Homo sapiens: one gene and its partner. The protein of the gene in region 1 purifies or fractionates together with the protein of each later gene. This does not show direct contact. Each region holds a gene or a part of one and is shown on either strand. Other genes may lie near its edges. The genes, in order: GTPBP6 and LRRC46.

Evidence for each region.
Region 2: the proteins of GTPBP6 (region 1) and LRRC46 purify together in Homo sapiens (co-immunoprecipitation; one large-scale study listed by IntAct). This does not show direct contact.

Annotation. Positions count from the first base shown.
Region 1 is NC_000023.11:306,289-309,070, forward strand, and holds part of GTPBP6 (putative GTP-binding protein 6), read right to left. Parts: intron 1,593-2,782; coding exon 1,444-1,592; intron 1,225-1,443; coding exon 1,072-1,224; intron 1-1,071.
Region 2 is NC_000017.11:47,834,670-47,838,219, forward strand, and holds the end of LRRC46 (leucine-rich repeat-containing protein 46), read left to right. Parts: intron 1-683; coding exon 684-730; intron 731-996; coding exon 997-1,106; intron 1,107-1,363; coding exon 1,364-1,433; intron 1,434-1,663; coding exon 1,664-1,806; intron 1,807-2,080; coding exon 2,081-2,451; 3' UTR 2,452-3,050; downstream 3,051-3,550. Other genes in the region: SCRN2 (secernin-2), read right to left, coding at 3,175-3,333. UniProt on the Homo sapiens protein: Required for normal spermatogenesis and male fertility. Plays an important role in sperm flagellum biogenesis.

The DNA of each region.
Region 1 (2,782 bases):
TGTTGTATGCACAGTCAGAAATGTACATTTTGACTGTCAGTGCAGATTAGGCACCTGTTGTATGCACAGAAATGTACATTTTGGCTGTCAAGCACAGATTAGGCACCTGTTGTATGGTCAGAAATGTACATTTTCACTGTCAGCATAATTAGGCACCTGTTGTATCCACAGTCAGAAATGTACATTGAGTGTCAGCACACATTAGGCACCTGTTGTATGCACAGTCAGAAATGTACATTTTGTCAGCACAGATTAGGCAACTGTTGTATGCAGTCAGAAATGTATTTTTACTGTCAAGCACAGATTAGGCACCTGTTGTATGCAGTCAGAAATGTACATTTTGACTGTCAGCACAGATTAGGCACCTGTTGTATGCAGTCAGAAATGTACATTTTGACTGTCAGTGCAGATTAGGCACCTGTTGTATGCACAGAAATGTACATTTTGGCTGTCAAGCACAGATTAGGCACCTGTTGTATGGTCAGAAATGTACATTTTCACTGTCAGCATAATTAGGCACCTGTTGTATCCACAGTCAGAAATGTATATTTTGAGTGTCAGCACAGATTAGGCACCTGTTGTATGCAGTCAGAAATGTACATTTTGACTGTCAGCACAGATTAGGCACCTGTTGTATGCAGTCAGAAATGTACATTTTGACTGTCAGCACAGATTAGGCACCTGTTGTATGCAGTCAGAAATGTACATTTTGACTGTCAAGCACAGATTAGGCAACTGTTGTATGCAGTCAGAAATGTATTTTTACTGTCAAGCACAGATTAGGCACCCGTTGTATGCAGTCAGAAATGTACATTTTGACTGTCAGCACAGATTAGGCACCTGTTGTATGCACAGTCACAAATGTAGATTTTGACTCTCAAGCGCAGATTAGGCACCTCTTGTATGCACAGTCACAAATGTACATTTGATGCAAACCCATTCATCTCGTCTGTACATCCTAAAGCTCTCGGGGATCTCACAGCTCCTTGTGCACCCACGAAGAGCCCGTTTCAGAGCCAGAGACAGGCATCCAAAGCACCATCCCGTCTCCTGCCCCTGCAGGCCGCTCACCTGAGCTGCGCCCCTGCGAGCCTCACACGGAGAGTGAGGATCTGTCTCCCCGTCGCCTTCAAAACCGCCGCATCGAGCTCAGCTTTCAGCTCCTGGAGCCCGTGGCCCCGCAGGGCAGACACGGGCACGACGTTCGGTTCCGTGGGGCTGTACCTGCAAGGGTGGGGATGTCACAGGCCCCGCTCAGCGTCGGGGCGGCCGGACGAAATCAGGGTCCCCAGGAGTCCACTGCCCACGGGGCACAGTCTGGGGCCACTCCCTGTGTCCTGACTGCCACCGCTGCGGTTCACACGAGGAGACGGGGCATCTCCCCACCCGGCTCCAGCGCGTGCAGGGGAAGGAGACGCTTGCGGACCCCAGGGCCGGACTCACCCGGGCACGAGGTCCACCTTGTTGTGAACCTCCACCATGGAGTCCAGGAGCGGGGCGGGCAGCTGCAGGCCACGCAGCGTGGACAGAACGCTGCATTTCTGGAGCTCCGCCTCGGGGTGGCTGACGTCCCTCACGTGCAAGATGAGATCCTGTGGGCCGGGCCGTGGGGTCAGAGCTGCGGAGCCTCTGGTCCCTGACCCCAAGCTTGCAGACAGGCCCAGGAGAGGGGCTCACACGAGCTCCCAACGACAGGCTGGGCATGGGAGGTACGCCTGTGTGCAGGCCCCTCGGACACCCCAGGACGGGGGCTCCTAGACCAACAGTGGACGCGAGCCCACCCGGCTGCACTTACCCAACCTTCCAAGCCACAGGCAGCAGCTCCGCACCCCCAGACCCACACGCAAGGGGGTGCCATATATGAGCACCCAACCACCACCCACCCACCCAGGGGGTCTTCATTCAAAGCTTTAGGGCGGCTTCATCCTCCTGTGAAATGTCTTTTAACAGCGGAATTATTTCCTCTTTAAAGGATGCTTTTTTTCTCACGTTCAAAAAAAATCTTACAGGCAGGCTCCTTACACAAAATTTGAAAAACACAGGGAAAAAAAAATAAAGCCGTGTGTAATTCTCCAACTTATACTACCGGGGTATCCACGTCTACTTTTTGTTTGTTTGGATGCACTTAATACAAATAATATTTTTCCTGTAACTGAGGCACTTTGGGAGGTGGCTTGAGCCCAGAAGTTTGAGACCAGCCTGGGCAAGAGAGTGAGGCCGTTTCTACAGAAAGTACAAAAATTAGCCATGGCCTGGTTGTGCGTGTCTGTGGTCTCAGCTACTCAGGAGGCTGAGGTGGGAGGATCACTTGAGCCCAGGAGGTCGAGGCTGCAGTGAGCCGAGATCATACCACTGCGGTTCAGTCTGGGTGACAGAGCGAGACCCTGTCTCTAAAGAAGAAAAGTAAAAACAAAAAAAATAATTTCATCCCAGGAAAGTTTTACTTTTTTTTTTTTTTTTTTTTTGAGACGAGTCTCGCTCTGTCACACAGGCTGGAGTGCAGTGGCGCGATCTCAGCTCACTGCAAGCTCCGCCTCCCGGGTTCAGCCATTCTCCTGCCTCAGCCTCTCTTGAGTAGCTGGGACTACAGGCACCCGCCACCATGCCTGGCTAATTTTTTATATTTTTAGTAGAGACGGGATTTCGCCGTGGTCTCGATCTCCTGACCTGAAGTGATCCACCCGCCTCAACCTCCCAAAGTGCTGGGATTGCAGGCGTGAGCCACCACACCCGGTCCATAATTTATTGTCGGGAGGAGTCGAAAGCGGAGTCCAGGCTCCGG
Region 2 (3,550 bases), on another chromosome or scaffold:
ACGAATGACATAGGGTCCTGAATTGAAAAACTAATTCCCTCAAAATAGATCCTGAACATGACCTGTGCTCCTTCCACTGTTCTTTAGGCACTTCTCTTGATCTAGAAGTTCTTTTTGGCATCTACTCTAAATCTTTCACGTTAAATAGCTCCAGCCCATTTCCTGTTTTGAAGAAGAGGAAACTATGAAGATTCCTGTACATCATTCAGATCCTACTTGAAGGCTGTTTGGTGGTGGTGGTGGTGGTTGGTTGATCTTCAGCCTTCCCCTGGTTGAGTATTCCCAGCTCGCTTCAACTTTCCCCATAGAAACTTTAACCGTCAAGTTCCTGTATGCTCATTGTTCTCTCTGTGTATGCAAGCCACCACCAAGGCCCTTTCCGTTTTCCTGGTGGCTTCTTAGTTTCCTTTTCTGATTCCCAGGTCACTCTTTGGTTGTGGAATCAGAAGAGTATACGTAGTCAGGTTTAGATACCCCAGGTTTACACCCTTAACCATCCACATGGGGAAAGAAAATCATCTTTCTTAAGGTAGTGGCAACCTGTTCAAGGAGTGGGGTGATCATTCCCAAAGTGCCAGATCTCCAGCTGCAGAGTAGACATGGTCTTGGGGCTTTGTCCCCGTAAAGGGCCCCTGACGCATCTGATCTCAGCTTGGTTTCCCCACTTCGGTTTCTTCTTGCAGAATAAGATCCAGCAAATTGAGAACCTGGCTTGCATCCCCTCCTTGCGGTATGTGGTGCCAGGGCTCAGGCAGGGGAAGAGGGGTTGGGGGAACCTAGCCATATCCCAAAGAACTGGTTCAGATTTCTCCAAGCCTGGGTCCTTGTCAGTCAAGGACCAGCAAGCCTAGATCTACTCCCTCACCCCAGAAGGCCATGTGTCCCCACTGGTCATCAGCTGCCTAGCCCAGGGGCCCCGGTGTCAGGTGCCCTCCTCTTTTCTTCCAGCTGTTCCATGATTCAGCTCTGCCTCTGTACCCCTTCCTTCCCCTACAGCTTCCTGTCTCTGGCAGGAAACCAAATCAGGCAGGTGGAAAACCTCCTCGACCTCCCATGCCTCCAGTTTCTGGACCTTTCTGAGAACCTGATAGAAACATTGAAGCTGGGTAGGAACCCACTCGCCCTGGCTCACCAAACACATCCCCTGTGGGGCCTGCCCTCCCCTCTGCACCCATCTGCCCATGCTTCTATTAGCCATGCCCCTGCAGGTCCACATTTCATCCTCAGGGAGTTCAAGGGGTTGTGCCTAGAGGTACTGGCTTTGGACTAGAAAGTGGGTATGAGAACCCCATTCCCATCGCTTCATGGTCTTTTGGCTAAGATCAAGTGAGAACCCCATTTCCTCTCTCTTTGCTGTGTGCAGATGAGTTCCCCCAGAGCCTTCTCATCCTCAACCTGTCTGGAAACAGCTGCACCAACCAGGATGGCTACCGGTAAGGAGTGGAGGGTGGGAAGAAAGGTCATGGCTGAGCTCTACCTGCTAACTCAGCCCAGACCCCTCTCAGCCTGCAAACCTGGGGTCCTGTCCATGACACCTTCTCCCCCACCTCCTACCTAGCTCATGAGCCACCACCCCTCCGGGTGTGAGTGCTGTGGTGCGTGTCTTTGCATCCTCCACGCCAGGGTGCCCTCCTGGGTAACCTCTGCTCCTTCTGCTCTGCAGCGAGCTGGTGACAGAAGCCCTGCCACTTCTCCTGGACCTGGACGGGCAGCCTGTGGTGGAGCGCTGGATTTCGGATGAGGAGGATGAAGCCTCAAGCGATGAGGAGTTCCCAGAGCTGAGTGGCCCATTCTGCTCAGAACGAGGTGACCCTGCTTTCCAAGGTTTTCAGCCTCCCCAGAGCCCACCTCTGCCCTGTGGGACATGAGGGAAGCTAAGGTGGCAGTGGCGTCCGGGGAGGGGAGCCCCAAGTTCAGATCAACATCTGGGCCAGAGCCAGGTGTCAGTCCTGGGCCCCAGCCTCAGGCTCCTTCCCACAAGGGACAAGGGGCCAGCCAGAGACTTCCCTGAGCCCAGGGACCCTCCTGCTGAGCCCAGGGCTCCACCCACCCTGTACCCTCCACCCCCGGCCCCTCCCAGGCTTCCTCAAGGAGCTGGAGCAGGAGCTGAGCAGGCACAGGGAGCACCGGCAACAGACGGCCCTGACAGAGCACCTGCTGAGGATGGAGATGCAGCCCACCCTCACCGACCTGCCCCTGCTACCTGGGGTGCCCATGGCTGGGGACAGCAGCCCTTCTGCCACTCCTGCGCAAGGGGAGGAGACAGTCCCTGAGGCCGTCTCCTCACCCCAGGCCTCCTCTCCCACCAAGAAACCATGCAGTCTGATTCCCAGGGGCCACCAAAGCTCTTTCTGGGGAAGGAAGGGGGCACGAGCAGCCACAGCCCCCAAGGCCTCTGTGGCTGAGGCCCCCAGCACAACCAAAACTACGGCCAAGAGAAGCAAGAAATGATTCTCTGTCAACCTTTCTCTACTAGTGGAGAGGAGTGGGGCCTGCCCCTCTTCTCAGACCTCTGACCTGTGACAGAAGCCCATCCCCAGTAAAGTGTCTCTAGGCCCTGAGTATGCTTTTCATGTCACTTGGGGTATCTCAGGGGAAGAAACCAGTGAAAGCTCCAGGAAACAAAATACAGAGCTCAGTGAGCCACCTGATTCTAAAGAGCGAGTCTGGAATCTTTCGGGAGCTACCCACAGGGCAGGCATGCCTCAGGCCCCCGCTGGCTTCCTGGCTCCCACTTGGGCAGGAAGCGGGCACCACCTCATGGAAGAGGCATGCCATCTCACTGCCACCCCTAGCGAGTGCCCTTCCCCGGTCCAAGCCAAGGACCAAGGAGCTGTGGTCCTAGTCATCCCCAACAGCAGCCAGCTCCTGTCCCCTCCCTGTCCTCCTGCCCAGTCCCCATCACTCACCCACTCATAGGAATGAGTACACAACCACAGGCCCCGCAGCCAGCCCACAGCTGCCTTTGGGCCTCACTTGGCTCTCCCACCCCCACTGGTCCTGGGATAAAGTTCACTGAAGAGAAAATAAAGCACATTTATTAAGGCAAAGGCCAAGCTGGCCGCTCAGAACATGGCCAAGGAGCGTGAAGGGATTGCTCCACTTTACCACCACTCAGGGCACCCAGGCCCCAGGGGTCCTGGGTCCACCCCAGGCCAGCAGAAGCTATGAAGCTTACGCATAAGCCTGGCTCTCCCTCTTCACGAAGGCCTGGAAGAGGCTGCCCAGCTCCCAGAGGGGTGGGGCCCACTCGCCGGCCAGCAGCCCCTGTGTGGCCTCGAGGCCTTCCTGCTCCAGATCCTGCTGTTTCTGCTGGAGCTGCTGCCCCCGATCCTGCCCCAAGGGAAAGCTGAGATGAGTCTGTCCGGGACAGGCTTCCCGCCAGGTGAAGGGGGGACTGTGTACCACCTCACACAAGCAGGAGAAAGGAGATACCCCCCGACATTCCCCAAAGGCAGTTGCTGGCTTTGAAGGGAGGAACTCCTCTCCCCAGCTCTGAAATCTCTTCCACTCCCTAGTTCCTTCATATTTCCAGAGTCCCACTGGGAGT